Regions from separate parts of the Homo sapiens genome. Here regions 1, 2, 3, 4, 6 and 7 are each reported to be linked to region 5. Evidence: microRNA targets listed by miRTarBase, many of them from high-throughput screens and not tested one by one. Region 5 holds a microRNA gene; each other region holds the end of a gene's coding sequence.

Region 1 (4,000 bases), not on the chromosome of region 5:
GTGGCTGTCCCAACCATGCCTTTTGTTTGGTTAGGGTGCTCTGAACTTCCTGAATGTAGATCATTCACAGAGGCTTGCAGTTGAGCAGGCCACCTCTGAGCAGTGCCCCCAGCTCACCCTGGGGTTGGGGCTGTGACAGTGAGCAGGGGGCACCTCTCTCGATGGGCTGACTTGGCCCTTGGGACGAGGGGACCCTTAAGGCCCAGTTGTGGCTACGTGTTGGCTGTTGCATGTCTGCCCAGGACTTCAGCATTCAGGCAGTGGGTGCTGTTCCTCCACGCGTGCCCGTCTCTGCAGGAGGAGCGGACGCTGTTCCAGTTGGATGAGGCCATCGAGGCCCTGGATGCTGCCATTGAGTATAAGAATGAGGCCATCACATGCCGCCAGCGGGTGCTTCGGGCCTCAGCCTCGTTGCTGTCCCAGTGCGAGATGAACCTCATGGCCAAGCTCAGCTACCTCTCATCCTCAGAGACCAGAGCCCTCCTCTGCAAGTATTTTGACAAGGTGGGCCAGCAGCCCATGGCCCCCCAGCTCCTCCTCAGCGGCACGTGTGGGGAGGTGTCTCATGGCAGCTGCTCCAGCGGATATCCCGTTTCCTCCCAGACTGGGGGACAGAATCAGGACCAACTCATCTGCAGGGCCGCCTGACCTTAAAGCCTATTTTACTTGTGAAACTAAGACCCAGTTTCCTACCCGCCCCCCACTTCTGCTCTGATTGGCTAACCTCAGGGTGGTCCATGGCCACAATAGTAGCTCTCAGTAGGGGAAGTTTTTGCCCTTTTGTGACATTTGGCCATGGCTGGAGATACTTTTGGTTGTCACAGTGGTGGGGGTGGAGGCCAGGGATGTTACTAAACATCCTATAACACACAGGACAGGCCCCCACAACCAAGAATTATCTGGTCCCAGATGTCCATAGTGCTGAGGTTGGTCTAGATGAAATCCCACAACTTGACGCTCTGCCCAGCTCCATAGTGTGTGGCTAGGAAAGGGTTTGTGGCAGAGATAGCAGATAAGGTGAGAGCCAGCTCTGATCGTTGGAAGATAACTAGAGCACTGCTGAGGTGTCTGAGGCTGAGTCTTGGCTCAGCAGGGAAGACCCTGGTGATTTCTTAGTGCCGTGGTGGCAAGTGTGCCAATACTGTGTCTGTGATTGAGGATTAGCTGGATGAAGAGGGGTCATGATGAGGGCTGAGCCTGGCTGGGTCTTGGGACAGGTGGTGACGCTCCGAGAGGAGCAGCACCAGCAGCAGATTGCCTTCTCGGAACTGGAGATGCAGCTGGAGGAGCAGCAGAGGCTGGTGTACTGGCTGGAGGTGGCCCTGGAGCGGCAGCGCCTGGAGATGGACCGCCAGCTGACCCTGCAGCAGAAGGAGCACGAGCAGAACATGCAGCTGCTCCTGCAGCAGAGTCGAGGTGAGCAGCCCGGCCCATGGCTCACAACCCCGGCCCCCTCCATCCCCCCCACCCCCATCTTCCCCGCCCTGCACCCCCCTCCCTCCCCCCACCGCCCCTGCCACTCACAGCCCCTGCACCTACAGCCCTGGTGGCCCGGCCCACCGCTCACAACCCCGGCCCCCACCCAGCCCACAGCCCCCACCCCCACAGCCCTGGCCGCCTGCCCCGCCTGCAGCCCTCACCACCCTCTCCTCGACCTTTCCACTCTAGACCACCTCGGTGAAGGGTTAGCAGACAGCAGGAGGCAGTATGAGGCCCGGATTCAAGCTCTGGAGAAGGAACTGGGCCGTTACATGTGGATAAACCAGGAACTGAAACAGAAGCTCGGCGGTGTGAACGCTGTAGGCCACAGCAGGGGTAACTCCTCGTCGCGCTCTGAAGTCAGACCTGTTCCCTTTCTTTGGGGAAAGCTTAGAGACCACTCTCCCTCGAGCCTTTATTGGCTCAATTCACAGGTTGCTTATTGTGCTGGGGCACTGGGGAGCTAGGGCTTCGGGAAGGTGTTGCCACCTGTTTCTGATGAGGACACGTTACTCTCCATGACAGGTGGGGAGAAGAGGAGCCTGTGCTCGGAGGGCAGACAGGCTCCTGGAAATGAAGATGAGCTCCACCTGGCACCCGAGCTTCTCTGGCTGTCCCCCCTCACTGAGGGGGCCCCCCGCACCCGGGAGGAGACGCGGGACTTGGTCCACGCTCCGTTACCCTTGACCTGGAAACGCTCGAGCCTGTGTGGTGAGGAGCAGGGGTCCCCCGAGGAACTGAGGCAGCGGGAGGCGGCTGAGCCCCTGGTGGGGCGGGTGCTTCCTGTGGGTGAGGCAGGCCTGCCCTGGAACTTTGGGCCTTTGTCCAAGCCCCGGCGGGAACTGCGACGAGCCAGCCCGGGGATGATTGATGTCCGGAAAAACCCCCTGTAAGCCCTCGGGGCAGACCCTGCCTTGGAGGGAGACTCCGAGCCTGCTGAAAGGGGCAGCTGCCTGTTTTGCTTCTGTGAAGGGCAGTCCTTACCGCACACCCTAAATCCAGGCCCTCATCTGTACCCTCACTGGGATCAACAAATTTGGGCCATGGCCCAAAAGAACTGGACCCTCATTTAACAAAATAATATGCAAATTCCCACCACTTACTTCCATGAAGCTGTGGTACCCAATTGCCGCCTTGTGTCTTGCTCGAATCTCAGGACAATTCTGGTTTCAGGCGTAAATGGATGTGCTTGTAGTTCAGGGGTTTGGCCAAGAATCATCACGAAAGGGTCGGTGGTAACCAGGTTGTGGTTTAAATGGTCTTATGTATATAGGGGAAACTGGGAGACTTTAGGATCTTAAAAAACCATTTAATAAAAAAAAATCTTTGAAGGGACAAATGGGAAGTTTTCACTTAGAGTTTGATTTACAAGACAATAGGAGGAATCAGATTTGGGAACACAACAGGCTTGAACACTTTCTGGAGACTGAGAGACAGTTCAGAGTCAGCCCTCACCGTTAGCCAGACCCCTGGCCAGGACCCGCAGCAGGCTGGTCCAGCGGGTCTGTGGGGCACTCCTGTGGGGCACTCTTGGTGGAAACGATGAGCCAGGTGATGGTCTCCCCAGGAGTGGGCAATGGGTGAGGCCTGAGCCCTGAACTGGCTGGCTCTTGGACAGTCCTTGAAAATGTGGCTGCTCCAGAAGCCACTCAAGCTGGACCATGGTCACAGTTAACCTCAGGCCCAACATTAAACAAAAATGTACTGAGTGCTCAGTCACTAGAGATGATTTTACTGTTACACAGGGAAGGCAAAAAATAGCTTCCACTGCCCAATGCACTCTTCAGTTTCACGTATATGGCTTCACAGTTTACAAAGCGCTGCCTGTGTCGCAGCAGCCCAGCCTTACAGCAGCTCAAGGGACCCCAGGGAGGGCGCCTTTCTCCATTTGCATAAATGAGGCAGAGTGGCCCCCTGACTTGCCAAGGTCATGGTTGGGGTGAGGCTGGAATGGGATTCCTTGTCTGGGTTCCTGACTCCCAGGCTGCCTGAGTTATAGCACCAATCACATTGCCATCCACCTCTCCTCCTGCAACTTCCCCAACAAGGGGCAGGGCCAGGAGATGGATTGGATCCATAAGGGGAATTAGAAAACCCTAAGGCATTCTAATGGCAATCTGAACACTGACCATGGCAAAAGAGGCTTGGGACCAGGCATCCAACTTCTTTATGTCCACAGGGTCCTGGCTGACTCCTTGATCTTTTGGGCTCAGTAATGTTTGTGGCTATAAGTCCTCCAGCCAGGTTCCCATGAGCTTCTTCCGTGTATAAGTTCTGCTGATGGGGCGCCTCCTGGAGAAAGCGCGACTGAAAGGAGAGTCTTCTACAGTGGAGGGAAGAACATCCACATCCTCATCTAGAAGAAGGTAGAAAGGCTTAGCATGCAGGAGTCACAGAGGACCGAACTGAAAAAAATTGGCTTAAATTGCAGAGGGTTACACACAAAAACAGACTTTAAGAAAATCAGCACTGCTTGGAGGTTCGCTTATCCTACAGAAATGGTACCTACACTTTTTAGAAG
Region 2 (4,143 bases), not on the chromosome of region 5:
GTGTAAAGAATGTAGGAAATCATTTAGGTACAAGTCACACCTCACTGAACACCAGAGAGTTCACACTGGAGAAAGGCCATATGAGTGTAGAGAATGTGGGAAATGTTTTCATCAAAAGGGCAGTCTCATTCAACATCAGCAGATCCACTCTGGAGAAAGGCCACATGAGTGTGGAGAATGTGGGAAATGTTTTCATCAAAAGGGCAGTCTCATTCGACATCAGCAGATTCACTCTGGAGAAAGGCCACATGAGTGTGGAGAATGTGGAAAGTGTTTTCGTCAAAAGGGAAACCTCATTAAACATCAACGAGTTCACACGGGAGAAAGACATCATGAATGTTGAAAATTTGGCAGATCTGTTGGTAAAAAGAGCACCCTCATTCAACATTCGTGAGATCACACTGGAAAGCACTTATGAGTATGGAGAATGTGCAAAATCATCTAGCCAAAAGGTTGGCCTCATTCAACAATAGCAAGATCACACTGGGGAAAGGCTTTCTGAGTGTAGAGAATGTATGAAATCCTGTACATAGAAGTTTTGCCTCACCAAATACCAGAAGGGTCACACTGGAGAAAGACCCTATAGTTATGGGGAATTTGGGAAATTACCTAACAAGAAGTCCCACCTCACTGAACACTACTGAGTTCACAGTTGAGAAAGGCCATATGACTGTAAGGAATTTGTAAAATTATTTAGCCAGAAGAGCTGCATTACTATTCATCAGATAATTTACAATGGAGAAAGGCCACATAATAATTTCTCACATAATAAATGTGAGAAATCATTTCCGTACAGCTCTGCGCTCCATGTTCGTAAGAGTTCACACTGGACAAAGCCTTATGAGAGCAGCGAGTAGAAAATCCTTTGTGGGAAAACTCTGGTTTCATTAAACACAGGAGAGTTCATGCTAGAGAAAGGCCTCAACAGTGTAGCAAATATGGAAAGACATTCACTAGAAGCTCTGCCCTGCAAGTTCACACTAGAGAAAGCCCTTCTCAGTGAAGTAAATTTGGAAAATTGATTAGTCAAACCTCTATGCTCCTTCAAAATCAGAGTTCACACTGGATCAAGGCTTTATGGTGTGACAAATATGGCACATTCTTTATCTAAATGTCTAACATATTATGCACAGACAAGCTCCTGCTGTGGAAGTGCCTTTTGAGTGCAGAGCATTTGCGAGGGCTTCACTCTTCTTTCACTGGATACCAGAATGTTGACAGGAGAAAAATAACATAGATGTGTGGGAATATTACTTCTTGTCCAGTGTAACTGTGGGAGAGAGCCCTTATGAGGACACCATCAACCTATATTGAATGTCATATGTCCAGTAGCTGCATAAATTCCAGGTATATGGGAGCTGTATTGCATTTCTTATCCTGCGTATGTCCTTGCCAGATTTATTTCATTCTTAGGTCTCTGGCAAAAGCCATTTCATCTCTACCACTTGGCAGGTACCTACAGTGCATCACTCATGCACTCCATCATATTCCAGAAAAAAAGTTCAAGTTGTCTCCCATTCAGCAGTGGTATTTTTGAGTAGCCTCTGCACTCGTTCCTTTCTCATTTCTCTATGAAGAGTTAGGCCATGGACCTGACTCAGTTCTGGCCTAGAGCAGAAGTGTCCAATCTTTTGGCTTTCCTGGTCCACATTGGAAGAAGAATTGTCTTGTGCCGCATATGAAATACATTAACACTAATGATAGCTGATGAACTTTTTTAAAAAATCACACAAAAACCCTCATAATGTTTTAAGAAAGTTTACAAATTTGTGTTGGGCTGCATTCAAAGCTGTCCTGAGATACATGCGGCCCACAAGCTGCGGGTTGGACCAGCTTGGCCTAGAGAATTTTTCTGATTACTTGACAAGATGGGCTGTCTTTCCTAGGAATCTCATGATTGTCATGATTCTTAAAATGGAATTTTCCAGCCTCTTAACTCACCAACCCAAGTACAAGCTGCCTCTCATTGTTCTGGTTTCTGCTATGATGAAGTCCTTATTTAAGCTTCCTTCAATCTTGGGAATTGTATTGACTGTATTGTGTGAATTGTATACTCACTGCATTGTGTGGCTTAGATACAACATGGTTCTGGTACCATGAAGGATTCTGGTACCATGAAAGTTTGTTGGGGTTACTAAACTGTGTGACTCTTAGGGAACAGTATGAAGGCAGAATATAGCTCTGCATTTGTGGCCTAGTTTGGATGGCTGCCTAAGGCCTCCAAATAAAGACTTCAGGGCTTTGTGATCTTTATTTTTAGATGAAATAGTGCAATAATATGTGTTTTCATAAATCAACCTGAGTAGGGGACAGTTTTAGTGACACACTTTGGTGCTTCTGAGAACAGCACAAAATTATTCTCTTGTTTATAATGGATATTGCATTCTGCTCAGTACTGGTGAGGGAAATCTGTTCTCAAGTCCTACAGTGCATTCATGTGTCCTGAAGTCCAGAATTCTGTAGGATAGTGTCCTACGTTATAAGCCTGGAGAAAGAAATCATAATTCTTTAATTTTTATTTTTTTAGGGAAATGATGTCACTCTGAAACTCAGGCTGGAATACACTGGCATGGTCATACCTCACTGCGGCCTCAAACTCCTGGGCTCAAGTGATCCTCCTGCCTCAGCCTCCCGAGTACCTGAGATTAGCCCAGGTAATTTAAGAATTTTTTATAGAGATAGGGTTTTGCTATTTTACCCTGACTGATGTTCAACTCCTGGCCTCAAGTAATCCTCTAGCATACGCCCTTGAAAGCACTAGGATTACAGGTGTGAGCCACCATGCCCAGCCCAAAAATAATTTTTGTAGAATTAGCATTTCTAGGTAGTGAAGCAGACTGCAACAGAATAGTTGGGATATACTTTTTTTAAAAAGGCATCCACAATGATTCAGTCACTATGTCTGTGATGGACAAGCAGGTACAGAAATTTTCAGGACCTCCATAATTATGAATCTAGTGTAGCTTAGGTCATTGTCAGACTAAATCTAAAGGTTTTGTGGATTTCTGTAGCCTATCTGGGCTGCATACCAAAAAGCCATCCCTGAATTAGTAGGAGGAAGAGGATAGGGAGAAAGGAAATCTCTTAGTCCAGTGATGTGGCCTTTGCAACCAGCCAGCATTCCAATTTAATCAGGTGGAAATGATCTTCCTGGCTCATAAGTATTTGGTATCACACAGGCTAATTGCCCCCCTTAGGGCGTGATGAGAGTTAGGAGAGTCAATGTAAAATCACATAACCTATTTGTCAAAAATAATGTTAAATCCAGATAGTTCTTTCAAATTAAATTTTTAAAGCTGTAATAAGACTGGGCATGGTGACTCATGCCTGTTATCCCAACACTTTGGGAGTCCAGGGTGGGAGTATTGCTTGAGGTAAGAAGTTTGAGACTAGCCTGGGTCCCATAGTAAGACCCTGTCTCTTAAAAAATAAATACTATCTTTCTCTCTGGCCTCTCCATGCTCCAGACAATCACTGAATTACAATATTTGCTTAACAGTAGATTAATGTCAATTTTCTGGAATTTTATATGACTGATATAACATGTTTCCTCTTTTCATACCTGAGTACTCTCCTGAGCCCTATTTATTTAGATGTTCTTCTTTTTTCTTTATTATTATTTTTATTTCACATAGCAGGGATGCATATTTTGACATTCATCAATCATGATATATGAGTAGTTCATTCTTTTTATCTTAGAATATGACATGCTATGGAAATCACTGTATACGAATTCATCTGCTTATGGATATGTTATTGCTTCTTATTTTTGTCTGTTAGGAATAAAACTGCTTGTTAAGCACATTTGAATGCAATTCTTCATATAGATAAGGTTTCATTTCTCTTGTTTGAATGCCTTGGTGTGCAGTGCCCAACTCACATGGTAGATGAATGTATACCCCTCTCCCAACTCCAGGCCGCACAGCTTACAGCTCCAAGAGAGACTCCTTCCCTCCACTTGAGGAGAGGAGAGGGAAGAATAAAGAAAACTTTGTCTTGGAACTTGTTCCAGCTCAGCTACAGTAGGATAGGGCACCAGGCTGAGGCCCCTATTCTAGGCCCTAGCTCTGAATGACATTTCTAGATATACCCTGGGCTAGAAGAGAACCCACTTCTTTGAAAGGGAGGATCCAGTCCTGGGAG
Region 3 (4,168 bases), not on the chromosome of region 5:
ACCACTCGGCTGAGGGGTGGGTCGGAGGCAAAGCCAAGGATCCAGGGCGCAAAGCCTCGGGCAGCTCTAGTGGACGTATAAAACCCAGACTCAACAAAATCCGATTCAGAACCCAGATCGTCCACACCACACCCTCTTTCAGGGACCCAGAGCAGCCGCTGGAGGGCAGGGGGGAGGAGGGAGTGGGGGAGGAACGACCTGTTAAAGGCCACTCGCCCTTCACATTGAGACCAAAGTCCAATGTATTTGGGTAAAAATTGCTTCTTTTAGAAAATGCAAAGGTTTATTTGTCTTAATAAATTGAATACTAGGTGTTGTAAGGAAGTGAGACCAGAAGGACAAGCTAAATTATGCATTCTTACTTGAGGGATCGGAATGGATGGGGCGGAGTTCTCTTCAGGCTAGCCTTCTGGGAAAAGTGGATGTCTTTTTCAGAGATTCATCATACCTTGACCTGTACCTCTTCTCTGCCCTCCACTTCCCTGCCCTGGAGTCCGTTTCTGGAGACTAGAAATGTATCTAAATTGGGGGAACAGAATGAATGAATTAATGAATGAGAGTTCCTTTGCTTTAACCATTCCTGGATGCCTGCAAAGTAAGGAATAATGCAGTTTTTATGTATCTGATTTTATAAGGGGTTACTCTTTCAAGAGTAACAAAAAAATGCAAACTGTAATGAAACTACATTGTATTTCTAAGTGTGAAAACGACAGGCTGCCCCGTTTTTACTAATTGCATTTGCATTTTAAGGTACTACTGAAGGTCAGATCAAAGTTGAAATGCAAAAATACTAATTAGAGAATAATGTGAATAAAATGGGAATCTTCTTGGTATTTTATGTGTATTGTAAGTAGCAGTTAAATTATTTTTTTAAAAGCAATTTCAGTTTTAATCACTGAACAAAAGAAACAGGCAACATTCACTTCTGTAGTATGGTTTCCACCTATCTCTAACACCACTATTAAGGTACACCAGTGTTAAGGTACATTAATAACTACACAAAATTTTATTTAAAGAGAACACTTAGCAGCCTATGATAGTTTTCAATAAAATGTTGCCTCTCTTTCGGATTCTCACTAACTTTTGTTACTATTCTAAAAGTTTGAATTTGCTGGGGTGTTTATTCTGAGGATTATTTAACCATTGTTCTATTTGGCATAACCCTATTTAATGGTGCTTAGAGCTGAATTACCTACAGAAACTGTTTCTGGTTTAAATAATTAGCACAAATTGGCCTAAGTATTCATGAGCCCATGTTTCTGTGAAGTAATTATTAAACCAACTTAATGATTCTTATGTAAGGTACACTTTTTATTTTAATACATTGGTAGTCTCTATGACTTGTAGCAATGTTTTACAAATGTTTAAAATGCTAAACTTAATTTTCCAAGCTTTTCTTGACAATTAGATACCTATCCTGTAGTTACTGAAAATCTGGGTAGTAAATCTACCCAATTAAAATGGCACTTTATAAAAGGGAATAGAGAAGAGATGGGACTATTTCTATATTTAAATGCTGCTGGCTATTCCTTTGTATATAAATGAAAAATACCATTCATTAAAATTAAGTACTCGTTTAAGTATGGTTCTTAATTACATTTCATTCATTTATATTAGAGTAAATGGCTTCATAACTACTTTAAAATTTAACCCACAAGCATATTAAATCTGTTTGTTATAAGATTGGAAACAATTTTTGAGAGGGACTAATTTAAACAAGTCCTCCTTTAGTCTTTTGGGTCGCGTAGTTGCTGAAACCTAAGTACCTGCAGCCTACAGGATAAGGAAGTTCACAGCCTGCGGGGTGAATGAACCCATGTGTGAACTGCACAGAGCAATTCATAGAAAATGCATAGAAATTTGTAACACTTTGGTCACATCTGTCTCTAGATGGTCATTGAATTTGTTTAAAGATGGATGAAAGGCCAGGCATGGTGGCTCATGCCTGTAATCCCAGCACTTTGGGAGGCCGAGGCAGGTGGATCACTTGAGGCCAGGAGTTTGAAACCAGCCTGGCCAACATGGTGAAAACCTGTCTCTACTAAAAATACAAAAATTAGCCGAGCGTGGTGGTGCGTGCCTGTAGTCCCAGCTACTTAGGAGGCTGAGGCATGAGAATCACTTAAACCTGAGAGGTGGAGGTTGCAGTTGAGCCAAGATCACGACACTGCACTCCAGCCTGGGCAACGGAGACTCTGTCTCAAAAAAAAAAAAAAAAAAGATGAATGAAAATATGAAATATATAAACTAGTATCCATTTATTTGCATTTATTGTGGGATTTCAGATATGAACGGTGTAAATTTGAGAAGCACTTATGCATACATGTGGGTGAAAAACCAATCTAATTTTGTATAAATAAAAACAGGCTCCTGGAAGGTGAAAAGTAGTCATTTGTTCTAAATCTATACATATTACTTGTATCTAGTGCAGAATAAGCTATAACATCCCATTGAGGAATCTTAAATTTCATAGACATGTAAAGCTGAAGTAACTCTAAAGAGCAGATGCTTCAGAACCATCAGAAGGTTCTGGTCAACAGTCAGTATTATCTCTTAAATGTATATGTTGGTCACTAATTGCACAAAATCTATAATTTGCCAGGGCTTTAGAGATTGAGTCAATATGTCATTTACCATGGTTTTCCCACTGAAGGCTTTAACTTTTCTGATAAAATAATATTTTAAATTTTCAAAAACCCATTCCTGAGGAGAACTACTTCTAGCATTCCTTTTCATGATGTGCTTTTGTGCAGTAAGTAGCATTTTCGGCTACTTAACTTTACATTCCTCTTATTTTTCAGTTTCCAGTCAAGATTATAAAAAGCAAATGATTGATATAATTTGATATTCATAGAGTTGTGCCTACCTTTAATGGAAAAATACATGTCAGATACTTAGATGTTTATTGATATGAGACTATGTGGTTAAAAAACCCAAGTATGTCCATGTGTTTCTTATAAGGTACACTTGAAACTAGTGAGTGTTTGTCACATTTCACTTTCATGGTATATAAAATGCAGTTTGCATATATAACTTGAATATCTGGTACTAGTTTTTTCACGCCTGCAATCTTGGAGTCTAGGTTGCCTTGTCTCTCCTATTTTTAAATAAGTGAAATTTGGGAGATTGTAAAATCTGTAAAGTTTGTTTTGTGAAAATAAAATGTTCACAGTAGAATTTTTCTCTGAATTGTCTAAGTTTCTGTCGTCCTTTAGACTTTTTACATATACTGTGTTTTACAGTTCACAAAATGCTTTTTGAAGTTTCAGTTTATTTGACCCTTTTCCTATCCCTTAAGATTATGGGCCATATATTGTTGACTTACAGATAAGAAAATAGAGGTTAATGGTTGTTCAGGGTCACACAGTAAAAAGCTGTTAGTAAGATTATAAGAGTCAGGGCTTTCCCACAACGTTATCTTTTCTGCACATTGAATTGCCACATTTTTAGCAAAACTGCTGTAGTTTGGCACCAGTGATGGAGGAATCAACTTGGAGAGAAGGTAATACCTCCACCACTACCTAAAAAAAAGCTGTATGGGTTTTGCACACACCATCTGCCATAAACCTGCCCTACCCAGGGCTGACTTCAAGACAGGTGTAGGAATACCGTTTTTCATTTTTCAGCCTCTGTGAAGCATTGAGAGTTAATTACCTCATCAAGGCTTCCTGTGATCTGTATTTTTAGCAAAATTCAACTCTGTTGAATGGCAAAGGGATGTGGTACTCCTTTGGTGTAATCGCCCACTATTGCTCTATCCGGGAGATCCCACTGTGATGGCTGCTGGGGTTATTCTTGTTTTATGATAACCCATAAAATATTTTTCAGGATCACTGAAAGACTAGATAAGTAGTTTGTTTTTCTAGAATAACTTCTTTCCTTAGAAGTACATGTCTTAAAAGGATTTATTAACCAGTTCACTTAAAGATATTTTTGAAATTTTCCTAGTAAAAATTATTTTTATTTTGCTAAGTAAATAGCATTATTTGGAGTTTCTTACATGATTAATTCCAGGATTAAATACTTGGAATTTGCTGTAAACCAGTATTCCTTCAATGATCACCCAAGTCTTCATAAATCACTGAATATTAGAGGGTTGGAAGATGACTCTACAGAAACTTGTTTCTCAAGATACAGAAGTCATGTGGTTCACATAACTACCTGCTTT
Region 4 (4,168 bases), not on the chromosome of region 5:
CTCAGCCTCCCAAAGTACTGGGATTACAGGCGTCAGCCACCACACTCAGTCTCTTTTTTTAAAAATGAGCAATTGTTTCTCTCGTTTTGTTTTGAGATAGAGTCTCGCTCTGTCACCCAGGCTGGAGTGCAGTGGTGCAATCTTGGCTCACTGCAATCTCTGCCTCCCGGGTTCAAGCGATTCTCCTGCCTCAGCCTCCCGAGTAGCTGGGATTACAGGCATGCACCACCACGCCCGGCTAATTTATATATGTTTAGTAGAGACGAGGTTTCACCATGTTGGCCAAGCTGGTCTCGAACTCCTGAACTCAAGTGATCCACTGCTTCGGCCTCCCAAAGTGCTGGGATTACAGGCATGAGCCACTGTTTTTTTTTAAATCCTTGCGCAGGGGCCTTGCTCATCTTTTGCATGCTTCAGTTTTAGTGTATGTGCTGCCGAAGCAAGCACTCTGTCTCATGAATAATTTCAAATATATGTAAAAGCAGACGCAGCTCCCGTCCCCACTTGACTTGAAACAATTTCCAGATGTGATTTCATCTGTATGTCAATGGGTATCCTTAGAGGATAAGGATTTCAGGGCTCTTTCTGAAGGCCGGGTTTGTAGGGTGGCCTGAGTGCCACGTCCTGCCTCTGGGCCCTCTCCCTGGTCTGCATGGTCAGGTGCCGCCTGCCAGGTTTGAGCAACCACTGCAACCAGTCCCCTCCCTGCCACCTTCTCTGGGCCTCATCCACGGTGCGCTAGGCCTGCGCACATCCGTGCGTGTGCATGTGTCACCCCCACCTCAGGTCCTCCGAGAGCAAAGCCCTGGGCAGGGCCAGGCATTTCGGGTAATGCTCCACCCTGTTCACAGGGTTCTGGGGGAGGCTGTTCTGCCCTTCTCTCCTGCACTGGCTGAAGTGACGCTGGGCATTGGCCGTGGCCGCAGGGTCATCCTGCGCAGCTACCACGAGGAGGAGGCAGGTGAGGGGGCTGGACGTGGCCTGGGACAGCAGAGTGGCAGGTGGGAGAGGGGCGGGGCCCAGGTTACTCCTGTTCTTCCCCAACAGACAGCACTGCCAAAGCCATGGTGACTGAGATGTGCCTTGGAGAGGAGGATTTCCAGCAGCTGCAGGCCCAGGAAGGGGTGGCCATCACTTTCTGCCTCAAGGAATTCCGGGTGAGGTTCCTCCCAGGCGCTCGCCGTCCTGTCCTCCCTGCCCAGCTCAGCCCAGCCCGGGGCCTCACCTGCTACCTCTTTCCTCCCAGGGGCTCCTGAGCTTTGCAGAGTCAGCAAACTTGAATCTTAGCATTCATTTTGATGCTCCAGGCAGGTAGTTCCCAGCCTTGGGACAGGGAAGGGCTCTGGGATGGCAGGAGCTGAATGGGATGACCTAGCTTGGGCCCCCTCCCCTGCCCAGGCCCGCCATCTTCACCATCAAGGACTCTTTGCTGGACGGCCACTTTGTCTTGGCCACACTCTCAGACACCGACTCGCACTCCCAGGACCTGGGCTCCCCAGAGCGTCACCAGCCAGTGCCTCAGCTCCAGGCTCACAGGTGAGGGCACCTCCCCCCAACTCCTCCTCTCTCCATGTCTGTGCACTCCAGCCTGAGACTGCAACTCCTAGCTTCTGCACCTCCCCGCAATGTGTTCTCTCCCGCCCCTTCTCTTTCTATCAGGCCCCAGCCCCTAACCCTATAGTGCTCACAGCTGCCAGCCCTGCAGACTCAGCCTTCTCGGTTAGCTGTACTCAGAGACCCCTCCCACCCAGGGAAGCATCCCCAAGGCCCTGCCAGCTTCCTTCTCTGGCTGAGGCCGCCCCTCTGAGCCTCCTCCCAGGCCAAGGAGGGAAAGGGCTGCTGGGAGGCAGGAGCTGCCTGGGCTGGGGGAAGCAGGTGGCTGGAAGGGCAGGTGGGCTGGGGAGGATGGCCCAGTGCACTTTCAGCACAGGAAGTTGGGGCTGGCCCCCAGCCCAGCCTGTCCCTGGGCTCCTGTGCTTTCCAGCTCCTGTCCCCTGGGAAGGTGGGGGCTTGGGCTCCATGTGGCCCAGTTCATAAGACTTGCTGCTCCTCCCTCCTAGCTGAGCTAAGGTAGCCCCCGGGATGCCTCCCTCAGGCCCCTACCTGAATTCTGATCAAAGAGATTCCTGGCCCACCCCCTCCAGGAAGTCACCACTTAACCCCTGCATCCTCTCCTCTCCAGCCAAATCAGGAAGTCATAAAACCAAGAGATCTCCAGTGGTCGGGGGCCCCAGAGCTCCCTTCGAGCCCTCCAAGGTGGGGCCCTGCCTCTGCTCCCCCAGTCCCCTCCCTGATACTCCGATTCTGCCTACAGCACACCCCACCCGGACGACTTTGCCAATGACGACATTGACTCTTACATGATCGCCATGGAAACCACTATAGGCAATGAGGGCTCGCGGGTGCTGCCCTCCATTTCCCTTTCACCTGGCCCCCAGCCCCCCAAGAGCCCCGGTCCCCACTCCGAGGAGGAAGATGAGGCTGAGCCCAGTACAGTGCCTGGGACTCCCCCACCCAAGAAGGTAGGGACTGGAGGTGGAGGCAGGGGTGGGAGGTAGGGAAGGGAGCAGCCTCCAGAACTCACTTGTTCTCTTTCCAGTTCCGCTCACTGTTCTTCGGCTCCATCCTGGCCCCTGTACGCTCCCCCCAGGGCCCCAGCCCTGTGCTGGCGGAAGACAGTGAGGGTGAAGGCTGAACCAAGAACCTGAAGCCTGTACCCAGAGGCCTTGGACTAGACGAAGCCCCAGCCAGTGGCAGAACTGGGTCTCTCAGCCCTGGGGATCAGAAAGGTGGGCTTGCTGGAGCTGAGCTGTTTCACTGCCTCTCGCAGGCCCCAGCTGGCTGTCACTGTAAAGCTGTCCCACAGCGGTCGGGCCTGGGCCGTTATCTCCCCACAACCCCCAGCCAATCAGGACTTTCCAGACTTGGCCCTGAACTACTGACGTTCCTACCTCTTATTTCTCATTGAGCCTCAGGCTATACTCCAGCTGGCCAAGGCTGGAAACCTGTCTCCCTCAGGCTCACCTTCCTAAGGAAAATGTCATAGTAGGTGCTGCTGGCCCCTGGTGATCCAGCTTCTCTGCCAATCATGACCTGTTCCTTCCTGAAGTCCTGGGCATGCATCTGGGACCCCCGTGGAGCTGACAAGTTTTCCTTGCTTTCCTGATACTCTTTGGCGCTGACTTGGAATTCTAAGAGCCTTGGACCCGAGTGTGTGGCTAGGGTTGCCCTGGCTGGGGCCCGGTGCCGAGACTCCCAAGCGGCTCTGTGCAGAAGAGCTGCCAGGCAGTGTCTTAGATGTGAGACGGAGGCCATGGCGAGAATCCAGCTTTGACCTTTATTCAAGAGACCAGATGGGTTGCCCCAGGATCCGGCTGCCAGCCCTGAGGCCAAGCACGGCTGGAGACCCACGACCTGGCCTGCCGTTGCCCTGAGCTGCAGCCTCGGCCCCAGGATCCTGCTCACAGTCACCGCAGGTGCAGGCAGGAAGCAGCCCTGGGGGACTGGACGCTGCTATTGATTCATTAAAAAAAGAAAAGAAAAATACACCAAGGCTCCATGTTCCCCGTGACAGGTGGGCCTGAGGGGTCGGGGTGACCCCCCCCCAGCATGGCAGCATGATTTCTGTACAATCAATCCATCATCTGGGGCACAGGGTGGTGTGCGGGGGCTATTTCTTGGCTTTGGCGGAATTGCGGGGTGGGGTGATGGGTCGGCCTCCAGGGTTCAGGCCACTGAACTGCCCGTACTTCCCCTTGTTCTTGTCGGCGGGCTTGAGGATCTAAAAGAGACAGTGTTGGTCAGGCTCATGGGGCTGAGCCACAGGGCCTAGCGGCTCCTTTCTTCCCCACACTCACCTGGAAAGAGCACATGAGGGTCTCGTCCACACTCATCATGGCGCCAGCATTGTCAAACTCGCCACAGTAGTTGGGAGCTGAGAAAAGTGTCACCAGCTGCCGCTTGGCAAAGAACTCGTAGCCGTCTTCTACCACCTGGGCGAGGATGGGAGCAGTCAGTCCCGAGCGCAGGCACGGCCCTCCCCTTCCCCTGCCGCAGGCCGGAGCCACCAGCCCACCTGGTGTGCTCGGCAGATGAGGTCCAAGTCGTGCTTGTGGAGGAACTTGGCCACCACCTCGGCTCCAAAGGTAAAAGAGACGCCACGGTCGTT
Region 5 (4,168 bases):
AAGTGATTTATAGTAAATTTGTTAAGTTTTACAGCCACTATCATAATTGTGTCTTAGAATAATTCTTTTATCCCGAACAGCTCCCTTTTGTGCTTTTCGAAAGAGAAGTTGCTTGGAAATCTGTGAGCTTTGGAGAATGGCAACTGAATTTGAACCCAGGCTTTGCCATTCACTGTGTGTGAGACTGAGGAATTTACTTAGCCTCTGGCTCCTCTATAAAATAGGAAAAGCAATGGTTGCAGGTAGACTGTTATGAATACTAAATAATAAATGCAAACTACTTGGTGTAAAGCACAGTATTCCATAGATGATGAGCTATTCATGTATTCACTTAAGAAACATTGTTATGTGGGCACAGTGGCTCATGCCTGTAATCCCAGCACTTTGGGAGGCCAAGGCGGCAGGATTGCTTGAAGCCAGCTGTTCAAGATTACAGTGAGACCCCATCTCTACAGAAAAATTTAAAAATTAGCTGGTGTGGTAGTGTGGGCCTGTAGTCCCAGCGACTTGGGAGGCTAAGGCGAGAGGATCGCTCAAGTCCAGGAGTTTGAGGTTATAGTGAGCTATGATCATGCCAATGCACTCCAGCCTGGATGACAGAGCAAGACACTGTCTCTTCAGAACGAAACAAAACAGAACACATTGTCAAGCACTTAGTACGTGTCAGTGCTAGGAACTGCTAGTTGCTACAGTGAACAAGACTGACATGGCCCCTGTTTTTAATGAGATAATAGTCTAGCTAGTTTATCTTCTAGTAATATTAGGGAGGCTTTGAGTGTTGTTGCTGTTTTTCACAGATGTGGAGAGGGGAATGTTAATTCTTCCTTTTAGGAACACATTCCAGATTTTCATTTTCTTTGAGCAATTTTTTTTAATTTGGTGAATGGAATTTTTTCTAAATTATGCTATTAAGAAGTTTAAACTTTTAAGTAGACTTGAGGAGTAAGAGTATGTTTTAGGAAAAGAAAGTAGAGGCTAGAGACTGGAAAGTCATTGGAAAGCTATTTCAATATTATTATAAGTTGGATCTGAGGTAAGACTTTAGGAATAATCTAAATATTGTTGCTGTGGTGTTCTTACAGAGCTTGGTCAGATGTAAACTACTAATATCTTAATACTTACATTAAGAATTAATGTAAATTCTGTCCAGTTCAGATTATTTTATTTTATTTTTGATACAGTCTCACTCTGTCACCCAGGCTGGAGTGCAGTGATGTGATCTTGGCTCACTACAACCTCCACCTCCCAGGTTCAAGTGATTCTCCCTCCTCAGCCTCCTGAGTAGCTGGGACTACAGGCACGCGCCACTGACTTGGCTAATTCTTGTATTTTTAGTAGAGATGGGCTCTTGCCACGTTGACGAGGCTGGTCTCGAACTCCTGGCCACAAAGGATCCATCCACCTCTGCCTCCCAGAGTGCTGAGATTACAGGCATGAGCTACCATGCCCAGCCTCAGACTTAGTTTAAAAGAAAAAGAATTAAAGTGATTATACCTGAGACGAGTTTCCACAAACATTTGTTTAAAATTTCACACTGGAAAGTTTTTTTTTTTTTTGGAAAGTTTTATAAGCCATGTCATTGTCTCCTCTTCTTTTTTTTTTTTTTTTTTTTTTTTGAGATGGAGTTTCACTCTTGTTTCCTAGGCTGGAGTGTAGTGGCACGATCTCAGCTCACTGCAATCTCCGCCTCCCAGGTTCAAGTGATTCTCCTGCCTCAGCCTCCTGAGTAGTTGGGATTAGAGGCATGTGCCACCACGCCCGGCTAATTTTATATATATATATTTTTTAGTAGAGACGGGGTTTCTCCATGTTGGTCAGGCTGGTCTCAAACTCCCGACCTCAAGTGATCCGCCCGCCTCAGCCTCCCAAAGTGCTGGGATTACAGGCGTGAGCCACTGTGCCCGGCTACTCTTCTTTTCACTATTTAGAGAGCAAGATGTCTAGGGAATTTCACTGAAGTGATTGAGGTGGGTGGGGATTCCTTGGTGGAATAGCCCTCTGGACTCTGAGGTGGATCATATGTATGTATTAGTAAATATAGCAAACTGGTTTAATTGATACATCCTGATAATTAAATGGTACATAGGTTGACTGGTCAGTAAGTTAGGTTAAATAAATATGAGCTTTGTCAGAAAAACACAAGTTTTCATTAGGTATATTTATGTTTTATTTACTCAATACATTTACATGGTAGTGTTACAGATTATCTTCTGTGTACCTGCCATTGCGTTGGTTGCGTGGTGTTAGTCGATTTCTGATATTGAAGTAGCACAGTCATACAGAATATTGGCCTAAAGAAATGACAGACAAACTCAGCTATATTGTCTGTCAATTCATAGGTCATTTTCCTGTATACCATTTCTGAATGATGACTTTAATCCTCTTCCATTATTGGATCTTTTTGGTGTTACAAAACTTGAATTTAAGAAAATTGATATTAATTCTTAATCATTTGTTAATTTTATAAAACAGGCTGAAAATCTTTTTTTCTGCTGGAATCAAATGAGAGTCCAAGTGACCACAATTTTCTGTCTTTCTTTATTATACCTTTATATTGTAGCAAGTTGGTAACCATCAAAAGTAACAGCATCTCCACTGGAAATTGGTACACAGTCCACATGGAGTTGCTGTTACACTTGATAACACCATTAAACATATAAGGAGATTCCTTTTGCTCATCATGGGAGCTGTACGATATCTCTAAGTATACTTGTTTCACAGAAGAAAGTCTCGATTTATTCATGTTCTAAATAAGTTTAGGGACTGGTAGATTTGAAACGCTGATGTTTTATTTTGATTTGAATTAATAGTGTCATTTGCATTTTAGATCATATTTGTATTTTATCAAGAAATAATTCCATTTCTGACTTTACTGTCATTGGTCATTTTTTGAATCTGTGAGATAATGCCATTAGAATTTGGGTTGAAATCTGTTACTAGTCAATAAAAACAGAAGAAATAATTTTTAGCATAAAAAAGATAAAATGTAGAAACACTGGCTACCTGGGAAGGAAAAGAAGTTGGTTAAATTTCTTTCATCATTTCAAACAGTTATAATCACTTTCATGCTATTAATGCTATAGTTAACATAGTGAAACTTAGCCCCTAACTTCTGGAAATTATGAGAAATTTAGTAAAAATAGCCAAGGAATTTCCAATATAATTTGAGTGTTAACTTTAGCTACCTCAAATTTTTTCTCAGTTAACAATAATAAACCTTTTGTTCAAAAAATTTATGTTCATTAAATAAAGAAAAATTTCTTCAAAATGGTTTTCTGTCAGCTTTAAAACATAAATCTAGGATTAAACTAAAAATAGAATTTCCCCTTCCAAATTTCACATTGTTCTAGAATTAAATTTAGTAAACAAATGTGAAACATTTAGCCTCTTACCTCATTCTTCTTCCAGTAAGTTACAGAAGAAAAGTTGTCTTAATAATCTTCAATATTTTTGCTTATAAAGGCAAAACACAGAAGACAGTGGGATGACAGCAGTCGTTTCTTTGTTGCTTTAGTAATCTTAATGCTGCTTAATGTCCATAACACGCTAAATAAGCCTCATTCCGGTTGATATCGAAGTTCAGAATGATTGGCTGATGTCATAGTTGCTCATGCTACCTAGTGGATTTTCACTGATTGAAACCTAAGAAGGGACACGTAATGCATGTGTTGAGATAAGGCCTTTGAGTAAAGTACAAGGTTTTATGATGGATTTATTGCTTTATGAAGTAAAGCATTAAGATGGAAGCATATAGATTACATACTGGTAAGTGGTTTCACCCACTTTTATCAGCAGTCGTTTATACTGATCTTTGGGTTATAGGTTAACTATGAGTTTGTGTTAAGTATACAATGTTAAAGAAATGAAGGTAGAATTCTTAAATTTCAGACAAATTAGGAATTTTCCTGCATTTTTTTCTGAAGAATATTAAATATCACAAGGAAATAGTTAGAAAATTGTTTAAAAATTTTTTTAGGAAACAGAAAATTATTTAAGAAATCTTTTAAGTATTATCTTGGTTTCATTATAAAAAAATTCCACTTCTAAGTATTTACCCAAAGGAAATAGGACTAATACCTCTTGTGTGAGGATATGTATATAAGATGTCCAATACAGTTGTTTATAAAGGAACATAATGATATACAAAAGAAGATGTAATTTAATTAGT
Region 6 (4,168 bases), not on the chromosome of region 5:
GACTAGGCTAAATGGAAGAGGGCTTGGTTTATACCAGAGAAAATTTAATATGGAGCTGTTAGGAAAGCTCCCCAAGGAGGTGAATCCATTCATCCTTAGTAGCCTGTGTAGTGCTTTCAAAGGTTCAGCCCACAAAGAGTCATCACTGAGATTAATAGGATAATGCATAGAATTCATCAGGAAGTGAACTCTGTTTTGCTACCTCGTGATCCTCAAGGGAGTACTTCAACCACACTTTGTCCAAAACTGTTATTTAATAAGTCATGTTTGCACTCAGTTACTCTGAAGTCAAATGAGTAGTTTATGTTATAAATTATTTCTGCACAACGTTCTTGTATCATATGAGGATAAGTGCTCTGTGTTATGACACAATCACACCTTCTTGTGCTTTAGAGAGACTGTATTTTTCCAAAATACATACTAATTTTATATCTGAGAGCAAAGAGCTTTCTTCTTAAGACAGGGTCTTGCTCTGTCACCCAGGCTGGTGCAGTGGCACAATCTCAGCTCACTGCAACCTCTGACCCCTGGGCTCAAGTGGTCCTCCCACCTCAGCCTTCCAAGTAGCTGGGACCACAGGCATGCGCCACCATGCCTAGCTAATTTTTTGTATTTTTAGTAGAGACAGGGTCTCACCATCTTTCCCAGGCTGGTCTCAAACTCCTGAGCTCAAGTGATCCATCCACCTTGGCCTCCCAAAGTGTTAGGACTACAGGTGTAAGCCCCTATGCCTGGCCTAAAAGCCAAGAATTCTTTAACTCAACAAAAAATAATGATTTATAAGAATTATTTTTTGGAGATGGGGGATAAACATAGTATTTTTAATTATTTGATTTAATTTGACATTTGGAAGAGAAAAATTTCAGGTCATTGATTATCAATTCTTGTGATATTATAGCTCATCAGATGTTTAGCTATCTCAAGGGACATATACAAATTCTCCAAAATATCACCAAACAAAATGAACTCTAATGGCTTCAAAAACAACAATTATAGAGCCCCTGTAGAGTGCCAGGGACTACTTTGCATATTTTGACTCATATATTTAAGGCTCTAAATATCCTTAGGAGATAAAAACTGCCATTATTCCAATTTTATAAAGGAAGACACTGAGACAGAGAATGAGGATGAGGGAATTTGGTCAACATCACACAGTTGAAAATAGAAGATCTGGAGTTTGAATCCATCAGTCAGACCTGAGAGCATATGCTTTATTGCTTTCAGTGAATTCATTGACTAGTGAAGTGTCTTCTGTATGCACGATTCTGGGCTAGTGCTGGACATGAGGAGGACATCTGGCTGGTTGCGTGCAGCACTGGATGTCCTCAGGCTGGTGCTTCATTGTCATGTGGTCCCTGACACAGTTGCCAGAATGCATGACCTCCATGGATCATCACACTACTTTGATCTCCTTCTTTTTTTTAATGTAACAGCTTTATCAAGATATAGTTAACATAACATATAATTCACTCATGTAAAGTGTACAATTTAATGGCTTTTAATATATTCACAGAGTTGTGCAACCATCACCATCATCAGTTTTAGAACATTTTCATTATCCCAAAAAAAAGAACCCCATACCCATTAGTAGTCACTCCTTATAACCCCCTCCCCCAACTACTGACAAGCACTGGTCCGCTTTATGTCTCCATAGATTTTTTTATTGTGAACATTTCATATAAATAGAATCATACAATATGTGACCTTTTCTGTCTGGCTTCTTTCATTTAGCATGATGTTTTCAAGCTTCATCCATGTTACAGCATGTGTTAGGACTTCATTTCTGCTTATTGTCGAATAACATTCTGTTGTCTGAATTTGCCACATTTTACGTATTCATTCATTACTCAATGGACATTTTTCCACTCTTTGGCTATTATAAATAACGATGCTATGAACATTTATGTGCAAGTTTTTTGTGTAGACATGTTTTAATTTCTCATAGGTATATACTTAGGAGTGAAATTGCTGTGTCATAGGGTAAGTCTACGTTAAATATTTTAAGAAATTGCCAGCCTGTTTTTCTCCTTGCTTATTGATAGTAAGAAGTCCTTCTTAGCAGTTTTTGCAAAAGTGACTTTTCTCCTCTATAGAAGCACCTTGACATTAGAAGGCAAGGATGCCAGACCTTGTCTTCAACAAATATTCAACATCTGGTGGACTATAAGTGGCCACTTTCAGTAACAGAAACCAAATGGAAAGTGTAGAATAATCTTGAGTAACTACCCCATCCTTTCTTAATATTAGGTCTTTTAAGTGACTATATGAAACAAATTTAATAAATGATGGTAACAATAGTAGCATCTGTTAAACACTGTAGATGTATCAGGAGGTCTATGAAGTATTACAAGTATCTTATCATTCAATTTTAGAATCACTAAAATATTTTAGAATCTTTACATTCTAGAGAGTAAGATTAAAGCAAAATTATAAGAATGACAGAGCCATAGTTTTATCTATTCTGATGACTAGGTAGGGGAAAAAGGTTTAGCTTGACGTAAGAAAAACTAAAACAAAAAGATGAACTCCCCTGAATGGAAGACTATTCAAAAGACACTCACTTAGCTGGGTAAAAGATAGTTTCACTGAGGCTGTTTTCAGGAAGCAGGAAGTAGAATGAGTTACTGTTATTTCTTTCCGGGTCTGTGTACTTATGATGTTATCTTACGGTTTAATTTTTCTATAGGTACACAGGATGTGTGGGTAGCCAATTAAAGTATTATAGAAGCTAGTAAATATTAACAGAAAAAAGAAATGAGGAACTGTTCTATTAAAACATTTTATTAGCTATTGTTAAAAAATTTTTCTGTTGCAAAGTGCCCATCTCTTGCCTACTATGAAAATTTGTTTGAATAGGTTTATCCACCTAAGCCTACATCAGATACCAGTGAGTAGACACAAAGTTAAACACACAAGAAACCACTCTTATGCAGTATTTTGTTGTGATGTCTTTTAAGTAAAAATTGGGAAATTTATATTTATTATAACAAATGATGGCCAAATGATGGCCACAAAAGCCATTGCTTGTAAATAATTATAATTCATACTGTAATGACATTTCCTATGAAAAGAATTACAATATATGTCATGGAATCCACCACTAGTCTTCCTCCTGGAAATAAAAATCAAACGGATCAATCTGCTTCAGTATATTAGGTAAGAAAAAATAATGGTGTCTAACTGCAGAGTGCATTGTGTTGATTTGGATTTCGCATAAAGTTGCCCATATAAAAACTTTTCTAATGTGGATTGAAATTCTGATTATACAACTATGAAAAAAATTGGAAGTATTATTATTCTCAGTGAATTCTAATTTGATTTGAAGGCCTTTGGAAGAATCCCTCTCCTACATTCTGCTTTAGTCCTTAAGATCCAGTTAGAGGCTGCTTGTAGTCATCCTCATTGCTTGAGAAGACTAGGCTTTTCTATTTAGCAACCAATCCAGGAACTAGATTTCACCACACTAACCACATCTTCCTTCTCTGTGTCATACTTGTATGTTTTTGGTCCTGAAAAGAAGTAAATGTAGCCTAAAAGAGACAAAGTTGAAATTGGGTTACTGAAGATGTCCAGCACATATATAAATGGAAGAATTTGTCACTGTCACTTTCTTAAAGTGTCACCAAAGAGGAATTGTGAATTTGTCAGGTGGCAGTTAGCTTGTCTTCTGTCTTCATGCCCTAGAACCTGACTCCTGAACTTCTCAGTCATTTCTGAGCTTTCTCCTTGTTCCAGCCGGGGTAAGGCCTTCTTGTTGGGGTCATCCAATGTGCCATGCTCAGTTATGTACTGTGCTTCTGCTCAGGCTGCTCTCCTCCAGGAAGCCACTCCCCTTTTCTTTCCCTAGTTAAGCCTCCGGCCAATCTTCAAAACCCATCTGAAGTCCTACTATAAAATTTCCAATGACTGCTGCCGATTCTGATATTTTAATTCTCAGATCAGCTCTTGCAATTATTGTGCAGTCTACCACATGACTCAACACTAAATTATAGATTGTCTGTTTTCCAGTCATTTCATCTGTGTTGGGTGAACCATTCTGTGAGAGCAGTGGCCACATCTGGAATGGTCTTTGCACTTCTGAACAGTGTCCAGCCCTGTGCTATTTTTTCAAGAAGAGTGTGCTAACTGACTACTTCAGAAGATTTAATTAAATGTATTCAACAAAGTT
Region 7 (4,145 bases), not on the chromosome of region 5:
GTTTCATAAATTTTAATGATCTGACTACTCAGATGTTCCTTTAACTATGGGCAATTTACTTTTTGCATTTCTGGTGCTCTGCTTTTTTCCTTAGATTCCAAGAAACCCTGGGATAACATATATTCAGATATTGTGCAACTGGCTCCCATCCTCTGCAAGAGATTCATTCTTTCATGTAATTAACCTGTGGCAACATGATCCATATTTTAATCAAGAAACATTTTACTGTACTTACAGTGCTATTTGATCCTTATGGGGCTTATCTTTGATTACTTCCTTTTCATTACCCTGGTAATCTGTAAAGTTGTCCTCAAATATCTTATTTGCTAATTATTGATCACTTCCACTGTATATTAAAAAACTGGATATTTTCATCTGAAATCAACCTTCTCTCATCTCAAAGTTCCCTTTTCATAGTCTTTTAATCTTATTGAAAATTCAAATTAGATCTTTGCTGAAGTTACTGCTTTTTATAATGACAGTCTCAAAGGGAACATTAACTGATCCTTCAAATATAATCACTGTCTTTAGAATTACTTGTTTGTTCATGTCTGGCTAAGTTTGTCTGCTGTCAGGAGTTGAGATGAGCATTATGAAATTGGATGGCTTAATATTGAAATCTTTTATGCCTAGGGGAAGTCTTTTATCTGTTGCTATACTTTGTCAGATTAAGGGTCCAGTTGTTGGGAGGAATCGCTAGAGCTGAAGGCAACCACTCAAGGAGCTTCACTGTGATCTTAGGGCAGTAATTCTCAAAAAGTGTGGTCTCCAGACCAGCAGCATTAGCCTCACCTTTGAACTTGTTAGATATGCAAGTTCTTAGGCCCCATTCCAAACATCCTGAATCAAACTGGGGGTATGGCCCAGCTATGTCTTGTTAAGCACTCCTGGTGATCCCAACGCACTCCTTTGAAGTGCCTTACGTTAGGTAACTCTCCCTCCCCCACTCCTCTCTAAACAGGCATCGTAACTCCTGACTAATTCCCAACGCTGGGCTTAGTATGCCATTTGTTAACAAGCATAAACTGGGAATATTTGGCCTGCTATCGATTATAGCAGCACCCTGTGAACATCTATAATTAGAATTGAGATTTGCCCCTTTACTAATTCAGAACCACTATCTCTAACAGAGGGCCTCATCCAGCAGTCTTTACTTCAATGGGTAGTATAGACTGGCCCGTCTCCCCCCACTCAAGTGTTGCCTACAAAAATTCCACTTTTCTGGCATGTGGAATGTTCATTTTCAGCATTTATATTTTCTTCCTTATTTGAATTAAAAGGCAAGTTTATCTAATTGACTAACATCCATCTCTTTCCATAGAAGTACTTGAAGTGGTTTGCAACAACTGGCATGCAGTAATTCAGAAAATTAGAAATAGAAAATCAAAAAATGAAAGGAAACCAGTATGACCTATATGCATGTATCTCCATTGTTTATGGAAGCCTGGGAAAACAACAGAAGTAGATGGTATTCATAGACAATTTCAGATAACATTTGGCAAAAATTTAAAGGTCAATCATTTCAAAGATAGTAAATTGAAGTGTTTACAAAGTGGTGCAGTAGACACAGTACAGGCATTGGAGTCAAATATCTTAGCTCAAGTCATAGCACTTTTATTTACTGGCATTTTAGCTTTAAAAAAAATCATTCTCATTACCTGGAAGTTATAAACACAGGTAAGGGGTAGATAATTAACTACTTGATGTGATTTTCAAGGCACCAGGTAGGTGTATTCACTCCTATCTGAGTGCCCCACCATGCTTAAAAAGGTTTTCCCTCCCCAAATACAGAGTGTATGAATCTTATCACTAAAAATAAATTTTCATTTATTCAACAAATATGTATGCATGTATCATCAGTCACCCTCTGATCTTTTAAAACAAATCAGGGAAGATATATTAAGTAAATTATCTTAGTTAATAAGTGTCAGTTTATTTTCCTTCAGGAAGGAAGACTTCCCTCCACTGTATAAGGGGACACTTAACATGTACCCCAGAACTGTACCTACCACAAATAAAGTTTCCTTAACAGGCAGGGATTCTAAAATATACTTCTGAATATCTTAATCGTATTAAATCTACCTCTAAAGTTCCATGTGATTTGAATTTTCTGAGCATGGCAAAGTGCTGATTATACTTCACTGCTGAGATCTTGCCCTAACATACAGGGTGATAAAAAGTGTTCATGTCAGACCCAGTTGCAACAAGAAGATGAAGGGGCAAGACAGTTTACACTGTAAAGCCTCGAAGAGACTGCAATGTCTAAGAATCAATTTCAAGTACAGAATTCTATAATATTAAGAAAGAGGAAATTATGTGGGCCTATTATGCTCAATGCTTAGTCTGTGCTAGGCTGCTTGCATTGCTATTACATGAATTTACTTTTACTGAGCTCCAGTGGAGTAAGAAAAAAAAGTTTAAGTGGAAAAATATTAAAAATCAAGATGAGCTAATCACATAAAAGAAATTTCAGGAATAGATAAGTGCCAACGCATGGAATGGTTAAGTGGCAACAGTCTTCTTCAATTGTTTTTATTACAGTAAGAGGAATTTTACTCTTAATGCATAGAAGCTGAAGAAAAAAATTTATATAAGCTTTTAAAAGAGGCATTTTAAACAATTATTAATACAAATGTGAAACAAGACCCTTCAAACAAATACCAATTTCAGTAACAGTTTACATACAGCAATAATTTATTCTGAAATGTTCATTTAGTTTCTGTTGAGACACAATTCATGTCTCATTAATAAAAGAGCAGCCATCTCACCTCAAATACCAGAATATACAACAAATTACAGCATAGCAAAAATTCTACCTACTTTCAGATAAAATCTAGTTCAGGTAAAATAGTTTCATTCAATGTTTTACAGTTACACAGATTTTTGTTTTGTTTGGAGCACAAAATAGTGTAAATTATTACACTGTAGCTATCTCTATGCACATCATGTGACCACATAACTGTTAATCATTACTTCTGAAATTGAACCATCAGTTTCATTCATGCAGTAAAGCAAAGCAGGCTGGGTAAACTTGTTCATCGGGAACCATATTACTGTGAATTTCACAGCCACATGATTAATTATGATGTTAGATGGACTCACAAGGACAAAAACATTTTTTTTTGCATAAATACCAATTTTTCCCTGATGTAAGTTTAGTCAGTTTATAATCTAGAAATGATTGATAACAGCAATATATCATATTTTCTATCTGTAGTGTTCATTATTTTAAGACAAGCAATAATTAAAGGAAGTTGGGATGGGATGCTACTTTAAATACATGTAAAACATACTGTACAAACATACTTGGCTTTACTATTTTTTTCCTAACCATCAAGAGTGCCTCCCAAAATAAGACCAGTGAAGACAAAGTATACTATCAAATATGGCTTCCAGAACAAAAACCCTCTAACAAGAATCAAACCTATTTACAAAATTTTTCAGTCTTTTAAAGTTTCATTTGAAACAAAATGTCTATATAGCAGTTGTAATTAACATAGAATTTTCTTAGTTTCATTCTTCCTCTCTTTTAAACAGATGTCACAAGGTAAGACCCAGAATGGCGCTTAGGACTTTGGGTTCCACTGGATTCTGTGCTGTCAGTTTTGGAATCTCGCTTCTTTGTGTTGTTATTCACTGGAGTTGGGATCTGAGATGGCCGAGCTGAAGTGCTATCTGCGCTGCTTTTCCTAGGGCTTGGGTTGTAATTAAAAGGAGTCACTCTGGCAGCAACAGTCCCACTAGGTGAACTGTGTTTGCTTGAGCTGCTAGAACTGAATGGGGTACGTTCCACTATAGAACTTTCATTAGTCTCTGATACAGGGACAGGATTATTTTGTCCTGGTTTTATCTCAGTTCCTTTTTGGTCAGGGGCATCCACCTGAATAAAGGAGTTCAGGCGATTTTCCAAACCCACGGTACGCATGGGAACACTGCCATTACCCACATTTTGTTTTGCCTGATTATCTTTTGAATCTTTAATGTTTGGATTTGCCTTTTCTGAAACACTGTCAATCACCGGGGGAGTATTACCTGTGGGAGATCTTCCAGATCTAGGATTGTTAATGGGACAGTCCTCAATTCTCACCCAAACATCCTCTGTTTTAGAAACAGCAGGTGCCATTTGATAAATTAGAGTCTTTGAT

The links. Region 5 holds the annotated microRNA hsa-miR-215-5p (AUGACCUAUGAAUUGACAGAC, at 2,324-2,344, opposite strand). A microRNA usually pairs through its seed, bases 2 to 8, with sites in the 3' UTR of a target mRNA and lowers its output. Matches are read on the target gene's strand: a 7mer-m8 pairs with bases 2 to 8, a 7mer-A1 pairs with bases 2 to 7 and ends in A, and an 8mer does both.
Region 1: the mRNA of TICRR is a reported target of hsa-miR-215-5p. The part of its 3' UTR that is shown has no 7-base or 8-base seed match.
Region 2: the mRNA of ZNF776 is a reported target of hsa-miR-215-5p. Seed matches in the 3' UTR shown: 7mer-m8 at 2,966-2,972.
Region 3: the mRNA of SOWAHC is a reported target of hsa-miR-215-5p. The part of its 3' UTR that is shown has no 7-base or 8-base seed match.
Region 4: the mRNA of PPP1CA is a reported target of hsa-miR-215-5p. Seed matches in the 3' UTR shown: 7mer-A1 at 3,331-3,337.
Region 6: miRTarBase lists MMP20 as a target of hsa-miR-215-5p. The part of its 3' UTR that is shown has no 7-base or 8-base seed match.
Region 7: the mRNA of APC is a reported target of hsa-miR-215-5p. The part of its 3' UTR that is shown has no 7-base or 8-base seed match.

The regions. Positions count from the first base shown.
Region 1 is chr15:89,626,791-89,630,790 of GRCh38, reverse strand. It overlaps TICRR (TOPBP1 interacting checkpoint and replication regulator), which reads right to left. Exons shown (of 22, transcript NM_152259.4): 22 at 2,768-3,835. The coding sequence ends at 3,705. KIF7 (kinesin family member 7) reads left to right here. Exons shown (of 19, transcript NM_198525.3): 16 at 298-504; 17 at 1,218-1,416; 18 at 1,669-1,815; 19 at 2,005-2,814. The coding sequence ends at 2,372. Among named protein-coding and RNA genes, the nearest start is that of KIF7, 27 kb to the left of the region's middle. RefSeq lists an enhancer at 828-2,027.
Region 2 is chr19:57,754,345-57,758,487 of GRCh38, forward strand. ZNF776 (zinc finger protein 776) reads left to right here. Exons shown (of 3, transcript NM_173632.4): 3 at 1-3,804. The coding sequence ends at 343. Among named protein-coding and RNA genes, the nearest start is that of ZNF776, 9.6 kb to the left of the region's middle.
Region 3 is chr2:109,615,814-109,619,981 of GRCh38, forward strand. It overlaps SOWAHC (sosondowah ankyrin repeat domain family member C), which reads left to right. Exons shown (of 1, transcript NM_023016.4): 1 at 1-3,177. The coding sequence ends at 254. It also overlaps a transcript of RANBP2 not described here. Among named protein-coding and RNA genes, the nearest start is that of SOWAHC, 3.5 kb to the left of the region's middle.
Region 4 is chr11:67,394,865-67,399,032 of GRCh38, forward strand. PPP1CA (protein phosphatase 1 catalytic subunit alpha) reads right to left here. Exons shown (of 7, transcript NM_002708.4): 5 at 4,076-4,168; 6 at 3,858-3,992; 7 at 3,319-3,781. The coding sequence ends at 3,671. It overlaps RAD9A (RAD9 checkpoint clamp component A), which reads left to right. Exons shown (of 11, transcript NM_004584.3): 6 at 852-961; 7 at 1,048-1,157; 8 at 1,247-1,311; 9 at 1,399-1,536; 10 at 2,315-2,522; 11 at 2,600-3,546. The coding sequence ends at 2,695. It also overlaps the pseudogene RNU6-1238P. Among named protein-coding and RNA genes, the nearest start is that of PPP1CA, 4.9 kb to the right of the region's middle. RefSeq lists enhancers at 2,643-3,224, 3,225-3,805.
Region 5 is chr1:220,115,593-220,119,760 of GRCh38, forward strand. It overlaps MIR215 (microRNA 215), which reads right to left and starts at 2,370; the gene lies at 2,261-2,370. The region is part of intron 12 of IARS2 (isoleucyl-tRNA synthetase 2, mitochondrial); the gene reads left to right. It overlaps MIR194-1 (microRNA 194-1), which reads right to left and starts at 2,649; the gene lies at 2,565-2,649. It overlaps LOC124904515 (a long non-coding RNA gene), which reads right to left and starts at 3,521. Exons shown (of 2, transcript XR_007066883.1): 1 at 3,393-3,521; 2 at 2,150-2,291.
Region 6 is chr11:102,573,897-102,578,064 of GRCh38, forward strand. It overlaps MMP20 (matrix metallopeptidase 20), which reads right to left. Exons shown (of 10, transcript NM_004771.4): 10 at 2,936-3,530. The coding sequence ends at 3,430. Among named protein-coding and RNA genes, the nearest start is that of MMP7, 45 kb to the left of the region's middle.
Region 7 is chr5:112,843,511-112,847,655 of GRCh38, reverse strand. It overlaps APC (APC regulator of Wnt signaling pathway), which reads right to left. Exons shown (of 16, transcript NM_000038.6): 16 at 1,417-4,145. The coding sequence ends at 3,530. Among named protein-coding and RNA genes, the nearest start is that of SRP19, 16 kb to the left of the region's middle.